Regions from separate parts of the Homo sapiens genome. Here regions 1, 2, 4, 5 and 6 are each linked to region 3. Evidence: fine-mapped expression QTL. A gene starts in region 3. Each other region holds a variant in brackets. All regions are shown on one strand. Distances are between the middles of the regions.

Region 1 (4,086 bases), 23 kb before region 3:
CCAGTTCAGCTTTGCCACCATCCCAAATTGTTTTGTTACTTTCTTCAAAGTTAAATAACCATGTTTAGTTTTCTTTTTTCATTTCTTTTACATTTCTCAAATATCTCACAGCTTTAAAAAGAAGTGCCATAGATTCTATCATTTAAAATGAACACAGGGCCAGGCGCAGTGCCTCACGCCTATTATCTCCACACTTTGGGAGGCTGAGGTGGGAGGATCACCTGAGGTCAGGAGTTCGAGACCAGTCTGGCCAACGTGGTGAAACCCTGTCTCTACTAAAAATACAAAAATTTTTTAAAAATAATAATGAATAAAATAAAGACCAGGCGTGGTGGCTCACGCCTGTAATCCTAGCACTTTGGGAAGCCAAGGCAGGTGGATCACCTGAGGTCAGGAGTTCGAGACTAGCCAGGCCAACATAGCAAAACTCCGTCTCTACTAATACAAAACTTAGCCAGGCGTGGTGGCGGGCACCTGTAACGGGCTTGCTGGCGAGCGCCTGTAATCCCAGCTACTCAGGAGGTTGAGGCAGGAGAACTGCTTGAACCCAGGAGGTGGAAGCTGCAATGAGCCGAGATCATGCCACTGCACTCCAGCCTGGGCAACAGAGCAAGACTGTCTCAAAAAACTAAAAATAAATAAAAATGAGCTGGGTGTGGTGGCAGACACCTGTAGTCCTGGCTACGTAGGAGGCTGAGGCAGGAGAACCACTTGAACATGGGAGGTGAAGGTTGCAGTGAGTTGAGATCATGCCACTGCACTTTAGCCTAGGTGACAGAGCTAGAATCTGTCTCAAAAAAATGAAAATAAAAATAATAAAAATAAATAAAAGTTAGCCAGACATGGTGGCACATGTCTGTAGTCCCAGCTACTTGGGAGGCTGAGACAGGAGAACTGCTTGAACCTGGGAGGTGGATGTTAAGGTGAGTCGAGATCATGTCACTGCACTCCAGCCTGGGTGACAGAGTGAACTCCGTCTCAAAAAATGAAATAAGCTGGGCTCCGTTTCAAAAAATGAAATAAGCCAGGCGCGGTGGCTCACACCTGTAATCCCAGCACTTTGGGAGGCCGAGGTCAGGAGATTGAGACCATTCTGGCTAACACGGTGAAACCCCATCTCTACTAAAAAATACAAAAAACTAGCCGGGCATGGTGGCAGGCGCCTGTAGTCCCAGCTACTTGGGAGGCTGAGGCAGAAGAATGGCATGAACCCAGGAGGCGGAGCTTGCAGTGAGCCAAGATCGCACCACTGCAGTCCAGCCTGGGTGACACAGCGAGACTCCGTCTCAAAAAAATAAATAAAATAAAATAAAATAAAATGAACACAGACATCTCTAAAAACACATCTCATGCCAAGCAAACCTGTAAGTTCTAGACTGGAAATCCAATTTGCACCCTGTGCAAATCCAATTTAGGCTGGCAAGGACTAAATATGACCAGTTTAGCTTTCAAGGAGGAAGACTACAGTGCAATTACTTTACGGCAACAGGTTGGTTAGTGGTGATAGGCCCCTGGAGAGATGACTTGAATTTTTCCTTCTCAGGCTTCCCTTCAGTGGGCCTTCTGTGAACTGTCTGTGGTCTGGTGATAAAGCTAAAAGAGAAGTGGGCAAGAGCAAACCAGGAAGC[G/A]GGGAGGGCAACACAGAGATGCAGAGCATGCTCAAAGAGGAAGGGGGCAGGAGTTGTTGAGGCCACAAAGCACCTTGGGCTAGAAATTGTATGGGTCTCTACAATTCAACCAGAGACAGACATTTTTTGAGCACCTACTGATGTACAAGGCATTCGGCTGTCATTTGGGAAGGAGAGAGAATGCAAAATGCTAAAAGCAGCAAGTTCAAGCTTACAAAAATGTAGCTGAATGAGAAGTCAACAAATAGGTGAAAAAGTACAGGGCTTTATCCAGAAATAATAAGCAGTCAAGTTTGAAGTAAAAGGAAATGAAGATAAGTTGTAGCAGATAAGACCAGACAGAGAAGCAGGCTGAGGTCAGGCAGTGCAGGACTTGACCACTATACTAAGGAATTTGAGCTTTATTCTATAGGCAACAGGGAGTGGTACAATATTGAAGTTCACATACAAAATAGTAGAATACGATCAAAGTTATGTTCTAAGGAGATCCCTAAAGGAGAGGGAAACTTGAGGTTGGGAAGACTTACAAGAAGACTACTGCAACAGTTCAGCTAAGAGGATACCAACATGAATAAGGGGGATTTTGAAATGTGGGTAGATAGGAGAGGCACTGCAGAAAAAAAAAAATGAACAGAATTTGCTTATTAGACATGAGAGCAGAGGGAAGAGTCAAGGATACCCTGAGGTTGTTAGTGACTGCATTCAGAAATATGAAAATGGAGGGAGGAAAGGAGTAAGTGCAGTTCTTTTTTTTTTTTGAGATGGAGTCTCGCTGTGTCGCCCAGGCTGGAGTGCAGTGGCGTGATCTCTGCTCACTGCAACCTCTGCCTCCAGGGTTCAAGTGATTCTTCTGTCTCAGCTTCCCAAGTGGCACGCAGATTACAGACGCAAGCCACCACACCTGGCTAATTTTTGTATTTTTAGTAAAGACAGGTTTTCACCATGTTGGCCAGGCTGGTCTCAAACTCCTGACCTCAGGTGATCCACCTGCCTCAGCCTCCCAAAGTGCTGAGATTACAGGCCTGAGCCACTGTGCCCAGCCAATGCAGTTCTTATCAGGAAGAAATCCCCCTAGGATAGACCCTGAAGACAGCAGCCAGGTTCTCAGTTCTCAGAGGTGAGCATTTACCATTTCTTTTTCTTTTTTTTTTTTGAGACAGAGTCTCGCTCTTGCCCAGGCTGGAGTGCAGTGGCGTGATCTCGGCTCACTGCAACCTCCACCTCTGGGGTTCAAGCGATTCTCGTACCTCAGCCTCTTGACTAGCTGGGACTACAGGCATGTGCCACCCTGCCGGGCTAATTTTTGTATTTTTAGTAGAAACAGGGTTTCGCCATGTTGACCAGGCTGATCTCAAACTCCTGGCCTCAAGTGACCCGCCCACCTCAGCCTCCCAAAGTGCTGGGATTACAGGCATGAGCCACCGCTGCTGGCCAGCATTTCCCATTTCTAATTGTATTTCCCAAATGAAAGCACGTCTAAATAATTAGCATTGCTTAAGTCCTGTGTGACTTTCCAGGAGGCAAACATTCACTCCCATTTTAAAGACATAAGAGGAAAGTTGAGACACACGTTTAATATCGTACAAAGAGGTCAAGCGCGGTGGCTCATGCCTGTAATCCCAGCACTTTGGGAGGCAGAGGCGGGAAGATCACTTGAGGTCAGGAGTTTGAGACCGGCCTGGGCAACACAGGGAGATCTCGTCTCTAAAAACAAAAAGAGGCTGCGCATGGTGGCTCACACCTGTAATGCCAGCACTTTGGGAGGCCAAGGCAGGCTGAATCACTTGAGGTCAGGAGTTCAAGACCAGCCTGGCCAACATGGTGAAACCCTGTCTCTACTAAAAATATAAAAATTAGTCCAGGCATGATGGCTCACGCCTATAATCCCAGCACTTTGGGAGGCCAAGGTGGGCAGATCACCTGAAATCAGGAGTTCAAGATCAGCCTGGCCAACATGTTGAAACCCCGTCTTTACTGAAAATACAAAGAGTAGCCAGACATGTTAGCACATGCCTGTAATCTCAGCTACTTGGGAGGCTGAGGCAGGAGAACTGCTTAAACCCAGGAGGTGGAGGCTGCAGTGAGCAGAGATCACACCACTGCACTCCAGCCTGGGTGACAGAGTGAGACTCCGTCTCAAAAAAATAAAATAAAATAAAAATAAAAATAAATAAAAACAAAAAGAGAAAGTAATAGTGCACCAAGGAACCATGAAGAAAAGAAAAAGAAAAATGTCCAGGCCTCTTGACATCCACTTTGTTTAAATTCTCATCATTGGCATTCCAAGAAAGAAAGTCTCTTCTCATTCATATTTGCTAGCTTCAGTTCATGTATGGATCACCAATAACAAAACTGTTAGAGCGTAATTTATTTTATATATTTATCTATTTAAATTTAGAGATATCACTATGTTGCCCAGGCTGGTCTGGAACTCCTCAAGCAAGACTCCTGCCTCAGC
Region 2 (4,086 bases), 31 kb after region 3:
AGACCAGCCTGGCCAACAAGACAAAACCCTGTCTCTACCAAAAATACAAAAATTAGCCAGGTGTGGTGGCACACACCTGTAGTCCCAGCTACCAGGGAGGCTGAGGCACAGGAATCACTTGAACCCAGGAGGCGGAGGTTGCAGTGAGCTGAGATCCCGCCACTGCACTCCAGCCTGGGTGACAGAGTGAGATACTATTTCAAAAAAAAAAAAGAGGGAGAAAGTGGTGGACAAATCTCATGTCAAGGGCATGAGTGGCCTCCCAGCCACTCACAAGACTGGCAATTCAGCCTGCTGTCCACACTAGCACAGCCCAAGTTCACAGCGGAGAATATATCTCTCCAATGTCCAATGTCTAGCTAGCCTTTTACTGAAAGCAGTCATAACAGAATCACAGGTGACTAGTTCTACAGCTATTATACGAATGGTCCTCAAAGGCCGAATGAAAATGTCCACGGCAATTAACAAAAATATGTGAACAAGCTATCTGATCCAGAGCCATCCACTCAACGGACCATGCGAGTATGTGTAAAGGGAAAGGCTCTGAGAGTTAAAAATTGGGCTGGGCGCGGTGGCTCACGCCTGTAATCCCAGCACTTTGGGAGGCCGAGGCAAGCGGATCACGAGGTCAGGATTTCGAGACCAGCCTGACCAATATGGTGAAACCCTGTCTCTACTAAAAATACAAAAAACTAGTCGGGCGTGGTGGCGCATGCCTGTAGTCCCAGCTAGTCAGGAGGCTGAGGCAGGAGACTTGCTTGAACCCTGGAGGTGGAGGTTGCAGTGAGCCCGGATTACACCACTGTACTCCAGCCTGGGTGACAGAGCAAGACTCTGTCTCAAAAAAAAAAAAAAAACTGTACACAGCAGACACAATCAGAAAGGCTGGTCTTCTGAAGGACTCCAGAGACACTGATCATCTTTTCTGGATGAGTGCTGCCCTTTCTTCCACTTTTTCTTCCTGGAAAGAGATTTCTTTTCCTCCTACTCCTCTCCCTGCTTTCTCTCTGAGACAAGCATACTGGTCAGGCTAGGCCTTTCTCTACCCCAACCCACACTTCAGCTCCTCCTGAAATATTCAAGAACATTCACTGCCAGCTTTGTACTAATAATATTCTAGCCCTACTAAGTTTCTCATAATCTTATGAACATGTAAGTTGACTTACATGAGATGACTTATGAAAATGCCTTTTCATAAGTCATAACTGAAAGGCCACTTTGAGTAGCCTTTCTGTTACTTGCCCTTTGAGTGTCTGCTTTGTGGGCTACTCCTGAGTATTTTCTAAAGCTCAGGCACAGAATCTGCACTATTCTGGACATTATATTGTGAGGGGACTCTATTCTCCATGACTGGCTTTATGGGAATTGGGCAACTTTGGGAGTATCATCTAACAACAGAATAGGAACTTACTGAAGAGCCTTGTACCCTGACCTCTATTTTGTGCCATACTAGTTTATCAGCTATCCACTCCTCTTTTGAACCTAATGAAAAAGTATCTTCTGTGAGTTCCTCTCCCTTTAACTCCTGTGCTTTATACCATTTTCCACTTTCAGCAGTCAGTCACTTACCCCGAGAATCTCTACATATTCATAGATCTGGGCTTCTAGAAAAGCAATGTCTTTGTTCCTTTCAGTGTCTCTGAGAAAAAGAAACAAGCTGTTTCACTCAAGGATTCTCTCATCCATTGTTTTGTTCCCTATATCTGGGAACATTTATTGCACAACTGCATTAAAAATTATAAGCACATGAGAAATACGATGCTATGAAAGCAAATGCTCTGTTCATCTCAGGACTCTCTGACAAATACTGAGGGTATTTCTCAGAATGCATGGAGGCTTCCTCTATGACCTCACTTAGAAGATGAAGGACACATCAAGACCGCTTACATTTCCATCATTATAATCTACAAAGGAAATGTGGTATATAAGAGCAAGCTCTGCAGCAGGTAGACCTAGGCCCAAATCCTGACTCTGCTACTTAGAACTATGAGAGAGTGGACACATTCCATAACTTTTCTGAGTCCTTATCTGCAAAAACTCAGGATAACAACTAATTTTCTGGGTTGTTGTGAGAATTAGAAAAAAACGTACATTAAGAAAATACTGGGCCAGGCTCGGTGGCTCATGCCTGTAATCCCAGCATTTTGGGAGGCTGAGGCTGGCGATCACTTGAGGTTGGGAGTTTGTGACCAACCTCGCCAACATGGTGAAACCCTCTCTCTACTAAAAATA[C/T]AAAAATTAGCTGGGCACGGTGGCTCACATGCCTGTAATCCCACCACTGTGGGAGGCTGAGGCAGGTGGATCACCTGAGGTCAGGAGTTCATGACCAGCCTGGCCAACATGGTGAAACCCCGTCTCTACTAAAAATACAAAAACTAGCCAGGCATGGTGGCGCACTCTGGTAATCTCAGCTACTCGGGAGAGTGAGGCAGGAAAATCGCTTCAAGCAGGGCGGTGGAGGTTGCAGCGAGCCGAGATTGCGCCACTGCACTTGAGCCTGGGTGACAGAGGAAGACTCCGTCTCAAAAACAAACAAACAAAAAACACACAAAAATTAGCCAATGTGGTGTTGCACATCTGTAATCCCAGCTACTCGGGAGGCTGAGGCAGCAGAATCACTTGAACCCAGAAGGCGGAGTTTGCAGTGAGCCGAGATTGTGCCACTGCACTCCAGCCTGGGCAACAGAGCGAGATTCCATCTCAAAAAAGAAAAAAACAAACAAACAAAAAAAACAACCCTGGGTCGGGCACGGTGGCTCGCGCCTATAATCGCAGCACTTTGGGAGGCCAAGGCAGGTGGATCACTTAAGCTCAGGAGTTGCAGACCAGCCTGGCTAACATGATGAAACCCCATCTCTACTAAAAATACAAAAAATCAGCCATGTGTGGTGGTGCGTGCCTGTAGTCCCAGCTACTCAGGAGGCTGAGGCAGGAAAATCTTTTGAACCCAGGAGGTGGACGTTCCAGTGAGCTGAGATTGCACCACTGCACTCCAGCTTGGGCAACAGAGTGAGACTGTCTCAAAAAAAAAAAAAAAGAAAAAAGAAAATACCTTGTATAAGTATGTAGCTCAAGAATTAGATTCAACTTTACCAAAAATAAGCTTAGAAAAATAGGTTTTGAACCTATTTAGCCTTTTAGCCTCCATAACCTATTAAAGGTGCCATGAATATGGTTTCAAATTTAGAAACTTGATGTGCTCTCAATCAGATGAATACAGACGGTCCTTGGTTTATATTAACAGTGATAGTACTCTCTGCTATTAGCAGAGATAAAGAGCAGACTGGATCTCTGTCAACCAATAACGGAGATAAAGCAGGCTTTAAAGTCTCCACTGTGGTTAAAAATTCTGCATGGGAATAACATTTAAAAGCCACAAGCAGCAGTGCTACCCCAGCCACTCACCGCTTGGTGCCCTTTGACTTGGGATTTTTGGCAAACAAAGAGGTATCAAGTGACTCCAGGGACTTTCCTTTGGTACTGAATAGTCTCTGGGCTCGCTCTTCTAGGGTCCTAAGGAGACAGGACGGCAAAGGATTTTAGGGTTACTTTACCACACAGGCTGGCTTATTTTTGCAGTGTGGAGCAACAAAAAAAATGGAATCAGAGCTACTTAGAAGACTGTGCAAACACACAGTAAATCGATAGTTTTGATAGAAAAACTATTCCTTACCCGCCACATTTCAAGCCTAAAGCTAAGAGAGCAGATTTCAATCTGTCCAAACCCAGAGAAGCCAACTCCTATACAAAGAAGAGAAAAATTACAATATTACATTAACAGATTTTTGGGAAACCCCAAATGCAGGCCAGAGGGTGGGTGTTCCTGAGGCTGTGGCAGGACCACACATTTCACAGCCAATCTAGCAGTAAGTCTAAACTCTCCAGAGGACTGAATCTATAGTTATCTTCAGACTTAACCATACTGATAGTGTTCCATTTACTTTACTACGGCTTAATGTAGTTAGAATAATTATTTCAGTTTCCCAAGTAGTAATTTTTTTCTTTTTGCCTTGCTACTTTCTTTGTAGATGCTTGATCTCAAGAAATAGTGCCTTATCACAACACAACCATGGTATTAAAGACAGG
Region 3 (4,086 bases):
AGCTAATTTTCTTATTTTTTGTAGAGATGGAGCCGGGGAGCGGGAGGTGGGGCGGGGTAGGGGGGGCGGTCTCGCTATGTTGCCCAAGCTGGTCTCGAACTCCTAGGCTCAAGCAATCTTCCTGCCTCAGCCTCCCAAAGTGTTGGAATTACAAGCATGAGCTACTGCACCTGGCCTAACTCACTTTACTCTTTAATATGGACAAATCGAGGAGTAAAACAACTTGCTCAAGATCATGTGGTTCCACCAGGTGCGGTGGCTCATGCCTAAAATTCCAACACTTTGGGAGGCTGAAGTGGGAGAATGACCTGAGGCCAGGAGTTCCAGCATGCAGCTATGAGTGCACTACTGCACTCCAGCCTGGGTGACAGAAAGAGACCCCGTCTCTAAAAAAAAGATCATGTGAGGCTGGGCACGCTGGCTCATGCCTGTAATCCTAGCACTTTGGGAGGCCAAGGCAGGTGGATAACTTGAGGTCAGGACTTCAAGACCAGCCTGGCCAACGTGGTGAAACCCTGTCTTTACTAAAAATACAGAAATGAGCCAGGCATGGTGGCGGGCACCTCTGTAATACCAGCTCCTCAAGAGGCTGAAGCACGAGAATTGCTTGGACCTGGGACGCAGAGGTTGCAGTGAGCCAAGATCACCCCACTGCACTCCAGCCTGGGCAAAGACCAAGACTCCTTCTCAAAACAAACAAACAATAGATCATGTGGCTTGTTAGTAACAAAGCCTGGGTTTGAACCCAGGCATTTGGACCACGAGGCTCAAGATCTGGACTAGTATGTTAAACTGTCTCTTCTCAAGAAACTTCCTCCTTAGATCTTGAGGATTATGAGTTAGTACGTGTGCAGGGTTTAAAATATAGTGTTCAAAAAATATTAACTATCATTGTGATAATTATTCTAGGAGACTCAGACCCTGCCCTGGAGGGACAGTTGAAGTTCAGCTGGAGGGTGCAGTGATGAACAACCCCATGGCCCAGACAGGTGGGGACCAAGCCCCTCACTCACGCGTGTTCCTGGCCGCCGTGCTCCAGGCGGTAGCGCACGAGTCCCAGGAGGCGGCTCTGCCGGCTGTCCCCCTCACACAGCACACCTTGCACCGCCTGCGGCTCAGAGTCAAGGGAAGACAACCCAGAGGCGAGGCCTCTCCCCACCCAGGCTGTCCCACCTTCCCTCTGTTCCCCTGCCCCCCCAGATTCACTGTGTGGCCTTGGGTGAGCACTCAAACCATGTGCTGAACTAACAGACAAACAGGCTCTCTAAGCCTTCCTTATCTATGAAATGAGGATAATAATCCCCAACTTCATAGGGAGTTAGGAGGATAACTGCGTATTTAAAGCATTTGGCTGAGAGTCCAGGACTCAGTAAGTACTTAGTAAATACTGATTTCCTTCTCCCCTGATGGTTCAGAGGGGCAGGAGAGGGGATAGACACCTCGACACCTTCCATTCCTCTTCCCAAGGCCAGGGCAGGCTCAGGGCCGCAGTTAGCACAGGAAGGATATGATGACGCAGTATTCCCCCTCAGCCAGCGTCTCCTGGATTGCCACAGACTGGTCCATGCTGGCCCCTGCTGAGCGCACACACCCTGTGGGAGGGGAGATAGGAGCCCCGCTTTGGTCAACAAGTTACGCATGGGGTGGTGGAGCTGCCTCAGAGGGGTTGGGGGCAGGAGGGAGGGGCCTTTGCAGAGGGAGATGGTACCGGGGAGGCCTGATCCTCCTCCTCCTCCTCTTTGTCCTCCCTAGAATAGGCCTTTCAGTTTTTAGGGATAGGGGTCCAGTCCCTTTGCCCCGCTGGGATCTACAGTTTGCTATACTGCCTTTGTCTGGGAGGGCATCCAGTTGCTCTTGAGTGTGGTCTATCCTTGTTGGAAGTGGGGTACGTGGATTGGAGAAGGGGACCTAGTCCCTTTGCTCCTAGGACATGGCTCTTCCTCTCTTTTGGGGACAGTTTTTGTTCTGCTAGCGCCTCTCTGGGAGGTGTCAGTGGTGTGTCCATGTGGGGTTCAGGGAACATCCCCTTACTGTCATTCAGGAGGGTCCCATTCCTCTTTCCTTGGAGACAGGAAGTGTCCCATTGCTGCTTGCCCTTCACCCCCGCCCCAGCAGGCCCATTGCATCAGCTGCAGGCCGGGGGTTGGGGGGTGTCCCAGCCCTCAGCTTGCCCACTCCCTCCTGCCCAGCCCTGCCCTGGCTTTCCTGCTCTGCTCCCACCCACAGCTCCCTGACATTGTCACCTACCTCCTGAGCTGTCACCACAGGGCGCACGGGACTCCGCTGCCCCAGGTTCCGGGACAGTGACTACATTTCCCAACAGCCCCTGCGCCACATGGTGGTCAGTCAGCCTGCAAGTCCCAGCATGCCCGAGTCAATCGTGGGGTGGGGAGTCTCTCCATCCGTGTTAACCCCTTAGGCCCTGGGGTACACTGGGCTTCCTATACCAGAAAGGTTTTCTAATGATTGCCCTCACTCCCATCCCCAGCCCTCTAGGTCATGGGGCCAGAGCTTCCCACCCAGAAGGAAGATGGTCACATTTTATCTTAGGGGAAGAATATAATGCATTTTTATTTTCTCCTTAGTTCCATCCTCAGCTCTTCTCACTCCAGGGTAGACAACCCGGACCTCTACTGAAACTCTTCCCCTAAAATAACTACCTTCTCCTGGTTTAATGGAGGGAGAACCAGACTATGAAGAACCATTATGTCCATTTTCCAGGTGGAGAAACTGAGCCTTGGATAGGTTAAGCAGTTTGACATTAAGTCCTGCAGCTAGCAGGTGGCAACACTGGGACTCCACTGAAAGTCTGACTGCAACTCCTGGGCCATTTATACCGCTACACACTGCCCTATTTCCTCCCTTAGCCCCACCCAGCCCTCCTGCCACACAGGGCTGTTTGAGGCTACTGGGTGTGAACGCACTTTATAAAGGGTATGACACTGTTCCTGTCCGGCAACGTCCTTCCCCTGATCCGCCTGGCTTTGTGACCTTGGCCAAGACCTTTCTTCCCTTGGGACTCAATTTCCCCATCTAAGATAAGGAGGTTACCCAAGATGGACAAAAAGAGCCAGCACAGGGACTGGGCACAGTGGCTCATGTCTGTAATCCCGGCACTTTGGAAGGCCAAGGAGGGAGGATCGCTTGAGGCCAGGAGTTTGAGACCCCATCTCTAAAAAAAAATTTTTTTAAATTTAGCCGGGTATGGTGGTGCATGCCTGTAGTCCCAGCTACTTGGGAGGCTGAGGTGGGAGGATTGCTTGAGCCCAGGAGTTCAAGGCTGCAGTGAGCTGTGATTGCTCACCCAGCTCAGATAAGGAATGCTAGGATCATTCTCACTTGGCCTATTGGCTGTTTAATTAAGCTGTAAGCTCCCGTTGGACAGGACTATGCCTTTTCATCAACATACCAGCAGTTTCTGGCACACAGTTATCTATGGAGTTAGTGAATTACTTTCTGAACTATTTTAATAAATACACCTTCTCTCAAGCTTTGGCCCAAACTGAAGGAATGGGCCTTCAGTGCTGGGGAGGGGGTGACTGTTGTGACTTGTGAACAGTTTCCCTTCCTCTTTCCCCAAGTGAAGTGGCCATCCTAATGACCAGTTCAACTTTGCATATGTAAACCCCTTCCAGAAACAGTCGTTGCCTTCTTCTCAATCCATTTCTTTTCCTGGAAACATCCACAGCACAAATGGAGCTCAAGTTTATTTGAATTCAGTGTCTAAGTCATGTGGACGATGAGGGGAAAGGGGATTGACTCAGACCCTTAGGATCAAGGGGTGGGGTCACTGCAGGGAAGCAGAGGAACCCCAATTCCAGCCCTGCTCTAGTGTCAAAGCCTGGCGAGGAGGGTCTGGGCAAAGTAGATGGGGCTGTGTGCTTTTTATGATGAAGAAACTGTCCCTGCAGGATTTGGGGGTCCTCCCACTGGGTGGGGGTCAGGCAGGAGGTTTTCTGTTTTTCCAGACAAACCCTATCCTCTCCCTGAGATTAGGGCTGAGGGCCTGCCCCCTTGGGGGGTTCCATGGTCAGGCCTAGGCCCTAGAAGGGGAGAAGTGAGGAGCCTTAAGCCCAGAGCTGTGGG
Region 4 (4,086 bases), 46 kb before region 3:
ATGCCTGTAATCCCAGCTACTTGGGAGGCTGAGGCAAGAGAATCGCTTGAACCCGAGAGGCGGAGGTTGCAGTGAGCCGAGATCGCGCCATTGCACTCCAGCCTGGGCAACAAGAGTGAAACTGTCAAAAAAAAAAAAAAAAAGACTAAAGGCAAGTGGAACTGTACAGAAGCATTGTACTCTAGTTGATAATGGTGTTCCATGGGGGTCCTGATTAACAATTCTGAGGCCAGACGCAGTGGCTCACACCTGTAATCCCAACACCACTTTGGGAGGCCGAGGTGGGCAAATCACCTGAGGTTGGGAGTTCGAGACCAGCCTGACCAACATGGAGAAACCCCGTCTCTACTTAAAATACAAAATAGCCAGCCGTGGTAGCACATGCCTGTAATCCCAGCTACTCAGGAAGGTGAGGCAAGAAAATCGCTTGAACCTGGGAGGCAGAGGTTGCGGTGAGCCGAGATCGCACCATTGCTCTCCAGCCTGGGCAACAAGAGCGAAACTCTGCCTCAAAATAATAATAATAATAATTTTCTCAAGGTACCTCTAGGCCAAAAGGAATCCCTAACAGTTCTACTTAAGTAGTTAGGGCCAAATAAGTATTTAAGTCCTAACAACTTAGTAGCAATTTGAAAAAATAATACACATAAAAAGATTTCCATTTCATCTTTTTTTTTTTTTTTTATGGAGTCTTGCTCTGTCGCCCAGGCTGAAGTGCAGCGGCACGATCTCGGCTCACTGAAGCTTCGCCTGCCGGGTTCACGCCATTCTCCTGCCTCAGCCTCCCGAGTATCCGGGACTACAGGAGTCCGCCACCACACCCAGCTAATTTCTTTGTATTTTTAGTAGAGACGGGGTTTCACCGTGTTAGCCGGGATGATCTCGGTCTCCTGACTTCATGATCCGCCCGCCTTGGCCTCCCAGAGTGCTAGGATTACAGGCGTGAGCCACTGTGCCCGGCTGAACTACGTTCCACTGGAAGTTTGTCTGGTGTTCCCACAGATCTCCATGTTTACCTTGAATTTTTTTTTTTTTTTTTTTTTTGAGACAGCGTCTCACTCACTCTGTCACCCAGGCTAGAGTGCAGTGGGGCAATCTCAGCTCACTGCAGCCTCTGCCTCCTGGGTTCAAGCAATTCTCGTGCTTCAGCCTCCTGCGTAGCTGGGACTACAGGCAGATGCCACCACACCCAGCTAATTTTTGTTTTCGGTTTTTTTTTTTTGAGACAGAGTCTCTCTTGTCACCCAGGATGGAGTGCAATGGTGCGATCTCAACTCACTGCAACCTCCGCCTCCAAGGTTCAAGCGATTCTCCTGCCTCAGCCTCCTGAGTAGCTGGGATTACAGGCACGTGCCACCACACACAGCTAATTTTTGTATTTTTAGTAGAGACGGGGTTTCACAATGTTGGTCAGGCTGGTCTTGAACTCCTGACTTCATGATCCGCCCGCCTCAGCCTCTCAAAGTGCCGGGATTACAGGCGTGAGCCACTGCGCCCGGCTGAACTACTTTCAACTGGAAGTTTGTCTGGTGTTCCCACAGATCTCCATGTTTACTTTGAATTTTTCTTTTTTTTTTTCTTTTTTTTTTTTGAGACAGAGTCTCACTCACTCTGTCACCCAGGCCAGAGTACAGTGGGGTAATCTCAGCTCACTGCAGCCTCTGCCACCTGGGTTCAAGCAATTCTCATACCTCAGCCTCCCGTGTAGCTGGGACTACAGGTAGATGCCACCACACCCAGCTAATTTTTGTTTTCGGTTTTTGTTTGTTTTTTTTTTGAGACAGAGTCTCTCTCTTGTCACCCAGGATGAAGTACAATGGCACGATCTCAACTCATTGCAACCTCTGCCTCCAAGGTTCAAGCGATTCTCCTGCCTCAGCCTCCTGAGTAGCTGGGATTACAGGCATGCGCCACCACACACAGCTAATTTTTGTATTTTTCGTAGAGATGGGATTTCACAATGTTGGTCAGGCTGGTCTCGAACTCCTGACTTGGTGATCCGCCTGCCTCGGCCTCTCAAAGTGCCGGGATTACAGGCATGAGCCACCACGCCCGACCTGATATTAAATCTTATATTTATTCATTATTATTGGATGCCATTTCCACTAAATCGTGAGCTCTGCGAGGCAGGGACTTGGTCTTCTTTCTTCTGCTTCCTTGCCCAGTGCACAGCAGGCACTCTA[T/C]GTATTAAGTACAGCAAAGTATCAGGAAATGTCAGCTGACGTCCAGCTCTACTACTATCTTCCTGTGTGACATGAGAAGTCACTTCTGCTCTTTGGGTCTCGGTTTCTTCATCTATAAAGTGGGGATTTTAAATATCAAAATTTCAGGGGCCTTTACCATATGGAAAGGCACCTGCACTTTTCAAACTAAGGAGTTATGAGGAAGTGCTCTGCTTCTGCATGTCAGTGGTTTCTAATGACTCTCTCAGGATGTTTCTTTAGGTACTTCCTAGCAGACTGAAAGGTCATCTCCTAAGGGCTGACAGTTTGTGGATTCAGTTCACGGCCAGGGGTACATAGCGTACTGATGGGAAAATGGCCCTGCATCTTGTCGATGTCTTCTCACAGGGGGTCTCTCAGGACAGTCCAGCAAGGACCAGAACATCTTCACTCATTACACTACCTATGGAAACTTTAAGGCATGATGTGGGGGATTTCCAGCCACAGGGCGGTCTTCTCGGAATCTCCTCTCTAGAACCTGGCACGGAAGCTGGCTGTCAGAGCAGCTCTTGACCAGATTTGCCATTACACAGCCCCATAGTTCCCCCTCTGGCCACAGCTTCCTGTCTTTTCTCCTCTCCTGCTTCCCTACTCCCACTCTGCCCTTTTTTTAACCTCAGACCTCCAATCTTTTTGTCACCCAATCTAATAGGTGACAATAGATATTTTTCCTTTTTTCCCCATGTTCGGTCACCAAGTCTTATGAATCCTCTATTAAATTTTTTTTTTTTGAGGCAGAGTCTTACTCTGTTGCCCAGGTTGGAGTGTGGTGGCGTGATCTCAGCTCACGGCTCCTCTGTGTCCTGAGTTGAAGCGATTCTCCTGCCTCAGCCTCTCAAGAAAGCTGGGATCACAGGCATGCACCACCACGCCCAGCTAATTTTTGTATTTTTAGTAGAAACGGGGTTTCACCATGTTGGCCATGGTGCTCTCAAACTCCTGACCACAAGTGATCCACCCACCTTGGCCTCCCAAAGTGCTAGGATTACAGGCGTGAGCCACCTCACCCAGCCTCTCTTAAATATTTTTATATCTGACTGTCTTCTCTATCCCTACTGTCATGCCTTAGTTTAGGCCCTTAATGTTTCTGGAAAGCCCACTTAATGATTTCCCTACCTCCATTTTCACCTCCTCCAATTCCATTCTGCCAACACCTAGAAGAAAACACAAATCTGGGTGGGCACAGTGGCTCATGCCTGTAATCCCAAGGCTTTGAGAAGCTGAGGCAGGAGGATTGCTTGAGTCCAGGAATCCAAGACAACATGGTAAAACCCTATTTCTACAAAAAAAAAATTTTTTTTGAGATGTTGTTTCGCTCTTGTTAACCAGGCTGGAGTGCAATGGCACAATCTCGGCTCACTGCAACCTCCACCTCCCGGGTTCAAACTATTCTCCTGCCTCAGCCTCCTGAGTATCTGGGATTACAGGCATGTGCCACCACACCCAGCTAATTTTTGTATTTTTAGTAGAGATGGGATTTCTCCATGTTGGTCAGGCTGGTCTCAAACTCCCGACCTCAGGCGATCGACCCACCTCAGCCTCCCAAAATATATTTTTTCAATTAACTGGGCATGGTAGTGCAAACCTGTAGTCCCAGCTACTCAGGAGGTGAAGGGGGAGGACAGCTTGAGCCAGGGAGCTCGAGGCTGCAGTGAGCCATGATTGTATCACTGCATTCCACTCTGGGCACTACAGTGAGACCCTGTCTCAAAAAAAAAAAAGAAAAGAAAAGAAAACACAAATCTGGACACGTCACTACTGTGGGTAAAATCCCTCAATAACTTAAATCATTTTATCAGAGGCATTTGAACCAGAGCAACTCCATCTTGAATAAGAGCTAGGTAAAATAAGGCTAAGACCTGCT
Region 5 (4,086 bases), 150 kb before region 3:
AGAGCCTCCAGAAAGGAGTGTAACCTGCCAACGCCTTAATTTTGGCTTCGTGAGATTCCAACCAGAGAACTCACTAAGCCACACTGCGACCCGGCAGGCTGGGCAGTGCAGCGAGCTCTGGAGAGTGCGCCCTGACCCGGGGTCCAGGCCCGGTCAGTGTGACCTTGCGCGAGTCACGGTCGTCCTCCGCCCGCCAGGCCCCGGACGGCGTCTGCAGGGTCCGATTCCTGGGGATTTCCCGACGCCCCTTCCCCCGAGGTTCAGGGGCTGCCTGGGGTGCCGGGGAGGGGGGCCGAGGGATGGGGGACCTGGGGCTAGAAGGGTGGCACTGAGACCCGTAGGGAGGGGGCCAGTGAAGTGAGTAAAGGTGGATCGACGAAGAAGGAAATCCTTGGGGAGAGAACCACCGACGCGCGCTTCTTTCCCCCCCCCGCCCCGCCTCCGCCCCCGCCCCCGCCGCGCCGCCTCTCTCCCGCGCTCCGGAAGGCCTGCGTCCCCGCTCCCCAGCCAGGCGCCACCACCTGCCGCCCAGGCAGCCAGGCGACTCTTCTTTCGCGGGTCACGCGGCCTGACTCAGGCCCCTGCTCCTGTGGCCCCGAAACTCGCCGTTCGCTGGGCCTTGCGTTGCACTCGGCGTGCAGTTCCCCCTCGGCTCGCGGCCACTTGGTCCGCGCCGCCTGCGTCCTGTGTGCCGAGCCCGCCCGCACTGCGGGGACAGGCCGGGCGCCGCCCACGCCGCGCTCTGCCGGGCGCACAGTCTGCCTGGGAAGCGCGCGGCCGGGCGGGCGGCCATGGCGCGGCACGCTGGGAGGTAGCGCGGCGGCTGCAGGAGCGCACAGTCGGCCATGGCCCGGCGGCGGCGCCGCGCCTGCATCGCTCTGTTCCTGGTGCTGCTCTTCGCCTTCGGCACCCTCATGGGTCTGCGCACGCTCAAGGCTCCGGACGGACTCCCGGCGCTGGGCCCGGGCCTGGAGCTGGCGCCCTTTGAGCGACGCCCAGAGGGGGCCCCCGCGCCCGCTGCCAGGGCCCCGGCAGCCCCTGCCGCGCCGCCCCCGCCGCCGCCGCCGCCCCGCACCGCGGACCCTGGCGGCTCCCCTGGGCCGGCACCCGCGGAGGCCGAGCCCGCCCCCGTGCAGAGCCTGCGCGTCTACTCGGACCTGCACGCCTTCTACTACTCGTGGTACGGGAGCCCGCGGCGCGAGGGCCACTACATTCACTGGGACCACGTCATGGTGCCGCACTGGGACCCCAAGATCTCGGCCAGCTACCCCCGCGGCCGCCACAGCCCCCCAGACGACTTGGGCTCCAGCTTCTACCCGGAGCTGGGGCCCTACAGCTCCCGGGACCCCGAAGTGCTGCGGGAGCATATGACCCAGCTCAAGGAAGCCGCCATCGGTGAGCGCCCCCCACCCCGGGCGGCCCTGCCCCCCAGCCTCACCCTTCCTCCTTCCCACACCCCAGCTCCCTCTGGTCCTGTCACCGGCCCTTTGGTCCCACTTATCCGCCAGCCTGGCTTCTTAGCTGTTCCCTCCCACTCTCATCCTGGGCCCACCATGCGACACCGCCCCTCCGTCTAGTATTCAGACCCCCCAGCTGGGCCCTTCCATCCCTAACATCCAGGGCCCTTCCCATAGGGCGGAACTGCTAGGAGTTTGCACCAGGAGAGGGAGGCAGAGTCTTCAAATTTGTTGGGCGATGGGAAGTGAGGCCTGGAGTCCTGGCC[C/T]GCAGGTTCTGGGGTTCAGAGGAGTGGAACTTAGGGCGGCCTCTGCTTTCATGGCAGGTACAGGGTAGAGCAGCAGCCGTTCCTGCTTTTGCTGGCTGCAGAGAGGAAAGTGTGCCCGTGTTCCATGAAGGCCTCTGCTCTATTTGCAGTTGGAGGTAGTGTTGGGGGTTTAGAGGCTTTTCATCAAGCACCCAGCTGGAGGGAAGGTCCCAGGGCGCCTCCTTCGTAGGCTATGGAGGGGAGGCTCACTTATTTCGGATTTCGTCACTGAATTTTGCTGGATTTTACAGATGGCCTCTGCTCAGGGCTCTTCTCCATGCGGGACGTTAGGGTTAGGGGTGCTTCTCTTCTTCAGAGGTAGGCCTGTGGCTTCCAGGTGGGTGTGGCACTGTCCTCCCATTCCCTTTGTTCTACTACTTGCTGAGGCAGTCTAAAGCCTGGCTCCCTTCCGGCCTGGCGCGCTACGGTTCCCGCAGGCGCTCCGCTTCAGCACCGCGGGCGTGGACAGCTCCGGGGCGCGAGGCTCTGGGACTCATCTGCAGGAAGTGAACCTGGCAGGAGGCTTGCTTCAGGTTTTTAGGAACCATTTTTGCAATTGGAGATGTTTGTGAGGAAAAAAATCTCTGTTGAGGGGGGTACTGTGTGTCTCTGAAGTGGCCTCTGTGTTGCGTCTCAGGCGTCCTGGTCCTGTCCTGGTACCCACCTGGCATGGCTGATGATAACGGGGAGCCCTCAGATGACCTGGTGCCCGCCATTCTGGACACCGCCCATCAGTACAGCATCCAGGTGAGTCTCCAAGAAGAGGCCACGTGCTCTCTGCCCTATTCTGGAGAGTTGCTCTCCTCCGCCCACAGGGTTAGTGCCTCTACAGAAGTTCTTGGCAGTAGCCCAAAGGGATAACAAATATGTGGCAAGTGTGGTTTTGGGGGAGGGTTCAGATAAATGGTGCCTATGTTGCTCTTAGTTTTTTGAATTCTAAGAAAACTGAGAAAACTAAATATAGGACCAAGAGAAGACTAAATAATTATCACTTTTGTTAAATAATAATAGAGGTTAGGTTGTAAACCCTGGTGGAAAAAGGGTAGGCAAGAGCCAAAGGGACCTGCAGACTCAACTCTCTAGTGGGAGGCAGTGCTGGACCTCGAGGAGTAGGCAGGTGTTCTCAGCAGGTGGGCTCACTTTCAAGAGGAAGGACGGACTGGACGAAGCATTTCCCCACATGTGCCAATCAAGTAAGTCATCCCTTGCTTCTGTGGTGAAGGAAGAAAAATGATAGAGAAAGAAGAAAAGCCCCACTCCCCTATTCCTGAAGAGAATTCCACCACTGACATGTCTAACAGATCACAGCAGTTTTCCACTGACACAGCTTCAGCATACTTATTCCACTGTTTCAGGCAGCTAGCACCAACCACTTGGAGCTGGCACAAGGTTGAAACCTATTAGCCACCCTGTAACAGCCCACCAAAATGATTCCCACATGCCCTGCTGCGGGAGATGGGCAAACTGCTCACCCCTGTTTTGGCCTTCAAGGGCAGCAGCTGCCTTTATCTCTACTGTGCCCACCACTGCCAGGCCCTCTTCTGAACTCAGCCTCTCCTCCAGGCCATGGTTAGATCCTGAGCCTGATATGTTGTGGCCCCTAGATAGACACTCACCTGACCATTACTCCTCTGTTTGTGGCAGGTGGCCTTCCACATCCAACCCTACAAGGGCCGGGATGACATCACTGTACATGACAACATCAAGTACATCATTGACACGTAAGGCTGCTCTGGGGGCCGGGATTTTGGTGGGGATCAAAATGGAGGTAGGGATAGAAGGTTTGGAGGGGCAGGTCAAGAGACACAGGGCATAATGCCTGTGTTTCCCAGCAGCTGTTTTATAGTAAGAGAGTACTGGGCCTAAAGTCAGGCAGCCTGGGTTTCAATTCCTGTCCTGTGGCTTCTAATCTGTGATGAGGCAAGCCTCTTAACCTTTGAGTCTTGTGAGAATCACACGAATTAATATATGTGAAAGTAGCTTCTACAATGTAGGCACCTCATTTATTCATTCAGAAAGTATTGAATGAAGGCCAGGCATGGTGTAATCCCAGCACTTTGGGAGGTCGAGGCAGGCGGATCACTTGAGGTCAGGAGTTCGAGACCAGCCTGACTAACGTGGTGAAACCCCGTCTCTACTAAAAATAAAAAAATTAGCCAGGCGTGGTGGCGCACACCTGTAATCCCAGCTATTCAGGAGGCTGAGGCAGGAAAATCGCTTGAATCTGGGAGGCGGAGGTTGCAGTGAGCCGAGATTGCACCGCTGCACTCCAGCCTGGGTGACAGAGCGAGATTCCATCTCAAAAATAAATAAATAAATATTGA
Region 6 (4,086 bases), 92 kb before region 3:
GAAGTCTCCAGTTTTCCTCTGCCTCCAAGCTACCTCTGCTGCCAGACCAATCCTTCTAAAATGCTACTCTAACCACATTCTCTATCTAACCACTCTAGCCTTGGCTTAGACACCTCCAATGGTTTCCCACCATTTCTAGGAGAGTACAGTTCAAAACCCATAGAAGGTTACCACTGCCTTCCATGTTTGGATCTTTGCTATCTTTCCATCCTTATCTCCTTCTACTACTATGTTCTAGTCTAAGGGTCAGCACACTACAGCCAGTGAACCAAATCCACCCCACTGCCTGTTTTTGTAAAGTCTTATCAGAACTTGGCCATGTTCATTCTTTATGTATTGTCTATGGCTGCTTTTGTGCTACAATGGAAGAATGGAGTAGCTCCAACAGAGACCTTATAGCCTGCAAAGCCCAGAATATTTACTATTTAGCCCTAAGCAGAAAAAAGTGTGCTGACTCTGTTGTAACAGGACAACTGGCTATTCCCTGAAAATGGCCTGTTTCCCACCTGCATTCCTTGTTTCATGCTGTTCCTCTCTCTTGGAAAAACCTTCTCCTGCTTTTTTCCTAAATTGTATGTATTCTTTAAGACCAGCTCAAACGCCACCTTTTTCACAAAGACTTCCCTGATCCCAGAATTAAGGGTGAGCTTCCCTGTGCTCACAGTGCAATATTTGTACCTCTCCTTCACATTTACCACACTGTGTTTGCTGCTATGATTATTGGTGTAAACAATTTCTGCTTCTATGCTATAAATCGACTACCACAATCATTTGCAACATCCACAGAGCATAACAGCATTTTGCTTTATAAATGTTTGTTGAGTTGAAATGAACCCCCCTACAAGCTCAAATATTGGACTGAAACCAACAAGATAAAATTTCATAGGGAGATATTTTTATTTTTTATTTTTTGAGATGGAGTTTTGCTCTTGTTGCCCAGGCTGGAGTGCAGTGGCACCATCTTGGCTCATTGCAACCTCCACCTCCCGGGTTCAAGCAATTCCCCTGCCTCAGTCTCCAGAGTAGCTGGGATTACAGGCGTCTGCCACCACGCCCGGCTAATTTTTTGTATTTTTAATAGACACAGGGTTTCATTGTGTTGGCCAGGCTAGTCTCGAACTCCTGACCTCAGGTGATCCACCAGCCTTGGCCTCCCAAAGTGTTGGGATTACAGGCGTGAGCCACCATGTCCAGCCGGGAGATATTCTTAATAAGGCTTACATGCAGGTCTCCATTTTCATTTTTGTTAGATCTGACAGCTGCATACATGAGAATAATCTAGAGCAGGGTTTCTCAATCCCAGCACTATCACTATTTTGGGCCAGTTCTTTGTTGTAGGGGGCTGTCCTGTGCACTGTAAAACATTTAACAATGTCTTTAACCTCTACCCACTAGATTCCAGTATCGCCTCCACAGTATGACAATACAAAATGTTTCTAGACATTGCCAAACATCTCCTGAGGGCAAAGCTGCCCGCAGTTAAGAAGCACTACTCTAGAAATTTCCAACTATAAGCTAACAGTAAGATGTTGCTGATAAAATGTAGACTATATAGTAATTGTAGTACAGTGTCCAGATTAAGAGATAAGAGCCATACTGTATTCAGTGCTAGTTGACTCACACTTATGAGACTGCGCTCAACTGCAGATTTTAAAAGGACTCTGGGGCCGGGCGCGGTGGCTCATGCCTGTAATCCCAGCACTTTGGGAGGCCAAGGCAGGCATATCCCCTGAGGTCAGGAGTTCGAGATCAGCCTGACCAACATGGAGAAACCCTGTCTCTACTAAAAATACAAAATTAGCTGGGTGTGGTAGCGCATGCCTGTAATCCCAGCTACTTGGGAGGCTGAGGCAGGAGAATCGCTTGAACCTGGGAGGCGGAGGTTGCAGTGAGCCGGGATCACGCCACTGCACTCCAGCCTGGGCAACAACAGCAAAACTCCATCTCAAAAAAAGAAGAAAAAAAGGACCTTGGAAAACTGGAATTCATATAATCAAAGGTGACTAGGCTGATGAGAGACTGGGGAAAATGTCACAGAGGGACATTTAAGTAAATGGAGGTGGTTAGCCTGTACAAGAGGAAGAAAAATCCATGATCTTCAAATAGCTGATGGACTGTTCTGTGGGAGAAAGTTTACTCAGGAAGGCAGATCTAGAACCAGTGGGCAGCACCTGCAGAAAGGCAGGTTTTGGTTCTATACAAGTAAAAGCTTTCTAACAATCAGAGCTGGCTAACAAATGTATTGGGTTGGGGTATGAAACACTCTGCTCTTGTTGTTCTGGATGTCTTCAAGCAGAAACAAGATTAACTGATGTCAGGGATGCCATAGGGAGATTTCTGCATAG[G/A]GTAGGAGGTGGGACAAGATGGTCTCTCTAAGGCTAGCAAAGGAAAAGTGATATGCCATCAATAAGCCATATGCAATTTTAAGACCTCAACCACAGCAAAAAAGATATTCCTTGCTAAATCATTCACCCTATTTCTGTTTGGTAACATCTTAGTCCTTGGTACTGTAACTACTAGTGACTTATTTTTTTCTAATTGACCTGTAATAGTTCCTGGATGGGCCGGGCATGGTGGTTCATGCCTGTAATCCCAGCACTTTGGAAGGCCAAGGCAGGTGGATCACCTGAGGTCAAGAGTTCGAGACCAGCCTGGCTAACATGGTGAAACCTCATTTCTACTAAAAATTCAAAAAATTAGCTGGGCATGGTGGTGCGTGCCTGTAATCCCAGCTACTCAGGAGGCTGAGGCAGGAGAATTGCTAGAACCCAGGAGGCAGAGGTTGCAGTGAGCCAAGATCGCACCACTGCACTCCAGCTTAGGCAACAAGAGTGAAACTCCATCTCAAAAAAAAAAATAGTTCCTAGATAATGTATATCACTACCTTTAAACCAGAACTTTTATTCTGCTAATAATAACCACTAATATAATTTGTAAAATGCTTTACAGTTTTCAAAACATCCTGACATGCATTAGCTTACTCACATTAGCTAAACATGAAAATGAAAACTTATTTTAGATAACCTGCTCTCATTTACTGTCTCTTGCCTGAATTTCCTTTTTTTTTTTTTTTTTTTTTTTTTGAGACTGAGTCTCTCTCTCTCATCCAGCCTGGAGTGCAGTGGCACGATCTTGGCTCCCTGCCACCTCCACCTCCCAGATTCAAGTAATTCCCCTGCCTCAGCTTCCCAAATAGCTGGGATTACAGGCACCCGCCACTATGCCTGGCTAATTTTTCTATTTTTAGTACAGATGGAGTTTCACCATGTTGGCCAGGGTGCTCTTAACCTCAGGTGATCCACCTGCCTCGGCCTCCCAAAGTGCTGGGATTACAGAAAGTGTTAGGATTACAGGCATGAGCCACTGTGCCCAGCCTGAATTTCTTTCTTTTTTTTTTTTTTTTTTTAGATGGAGTCTCACTCTATCGCCCAGGCTGGAGTACAGTGGCATGATCTCGGCTCACTGCAACCTCTGCCTCCCGGGTCCAAGTGATTCTCCTGCCTCAGCCTCCTGAGTAGCTGGGATTACAGCCATGTGCCACCAAGCCTGGCTAATTTTTGTATTTTTAGCAGAGACAGGGTTTCACCATGTTGGCCAGGCTGCTCTCGAACTCCTGACCTCAAATGATCCACCCGCCTCAGCCTCCCAAAGTGCTGGGATTACAGGCGTGTGCCACTGTGAAATAAAAGTTCATTAAACATTCACTAAGATAATAAAACATATTCCAGCAGATACTCATCTCTAAAACAAATCATTTAAACACAACCAGGAGATAAGCCAAATATAGTTATTTCTTCATCAAATAAGCAAACTCCAGTTATTTCCCTGTAGATAAGCTAAATAGTTATTTTAGCACCAGAAACATGGGTCTACTTAAGTGAAATTTCTGTTTTATTTATGATTTGGGGAAGGAAATTCGAGAAATTACAATTTGATATTCCCAAATTTCAATGTGGCTATACAAACCAAAAGTTCCAGAAGCAATCACAACAAAACCTGAGGCATATGTTGTTGATAGCAAAACTACTTAAGTCCTAACCCCATGCACTCCTTTACTCCCCAGCTAAAATTTGCACCAAGAATTTT

Direction of the effects. Positions count from the first base shown, and alleles are read on the strand shown. Sizes are in standard deviations (SD) of each study's normalised expression. Not every link is listed here.
As copies of T replace C in region 4, the expression in lymphoblastoid cells of the gene that starts at base 2,311 in region 3 goes up (moderate effect, 0.63 SD a copy in GEUVADIS).

Evidence for each region. PIP is the estimated chance that this variant, and not a neighbour inherited with it, causes the effect.
Region 1: its variant is the best candidate, but not a certain one, in a credible set for the expression of INPP5B in blood mononuclear cells (TOPMed, PIP 0.51).
Region 2: its variant is the best candidate, but not a certain one, in a credible set for the expression of INPP5B in tibial artery (GTEx, PIP 0.52).
Region 4: its variant is the best candidate, but not a certain one, in a credible set for the expression of INPP5B in lymphoblastoid cells (GEUVADIS, PIP 0.89).
Region 5: its variant is the best candidate, but not a certain one, in a credible set for the expression of INPP5B in subcutaneous fat (GTEx, PIP 0.80).
Region 6: its variant is the best candidate, but not a certain one, in a credible set for the expression of INPP5B in whole blood (TOPMed, PIP 0.77).

The regions. Positions count from the first base shown.
Region 1 is chr1:37,921,408-37,925,493 of GRCh38, forward strand. All of the region lies in intron 7 of INPP5B (inositol polyphosphate-5-phosphatase B), which reads right to left. Among named protein-coding and RNA genes, the nearest start is that of INPP5B, 24 kb to the right of the region's middle. The variant G/A (reference allele first, on the strand shown) is at 1,629.
Region 2 is chr1:37,975,315-37,979,400 of GRCh38, forward strand. It overlaps SF3A3 (splicing factor 3a subunit 3), which reads right to left. Exons shown (of 17, transcript NM_006802.4): 10 at 3,674-3,741; 11 at 3,406-3,513; 12 at 1,570-1,639. Among named protein-coding and RNA genes, the nearest start is that of SF3A3, 13 kb to the right of the region's middle. The variant C/T (reference allele first, on the strand shown) is at 2,233.
Region 3 is chr1:37,944,743-37,948,828 of GRCh38, forward strand. INPP5B (inositol polyphosphate-5-phosphatase B) reads right to left here and starts at 2,311. Exons shown (of 24, transcript NM_005540.3): 1 at 2,248-2,311; 2 at 1,510-1,592; 3 at 1,014-1,108. The coding sequence starts at 1,566. LOC105378651 (a long non-coding RNA gene) reads left to right here. Exons shown (of 5, transcript XR_001737983.3): 5 at 537-885. RefSeq lists enhancers at 2,133-2,662, 2,240-2,479, 3,869-4,086.
Region 4 is chr1:37,899,052-37,903,137 of GRCh38, forward strand. The region is part of intron 7 of INPP5B (inositol polyphosphate-5-phosphatase B); the gene reads right to left. Among named protein-coding and RNA genes, the nearest start is that of MTF1, 42 kb to the left of the region's middle. RefSeq lists an enhancer at 2,542-2,781. The variant T/C (reference allele first, on the strand shown) is at 2,184.
Region 5 is chr1:37,793,338-37,797,423 of GRCh38, forward strand. It overlaps MANEAL (mannosidase endo-alpha like), which reads left to right and starts at 510. Exons shown (of 4, transcript NM_001113482.2): 1 at 510-1,395; 2 at 2,400-2,509; 3 at 3,407-3,483. The coding sequence starts at 846. RefSeq lists silencers at 417-466, 727-846. The variant C/T (reference allele first, on the strand shown) is at 1,724.
Region 6 is chr1:37,853,113-37,857,198 of GRCh38, forward strand. All of the region lies in intron 2 of MTF1 (metal regulatory transcription factor 1), which reads right to left. Among named protein-coding and RNA genes, the nearest start is that of MTF1, 4.4 kb to the right of the region's middle. The variant G/A (reference allele first, on the strand shown) is at 2,346.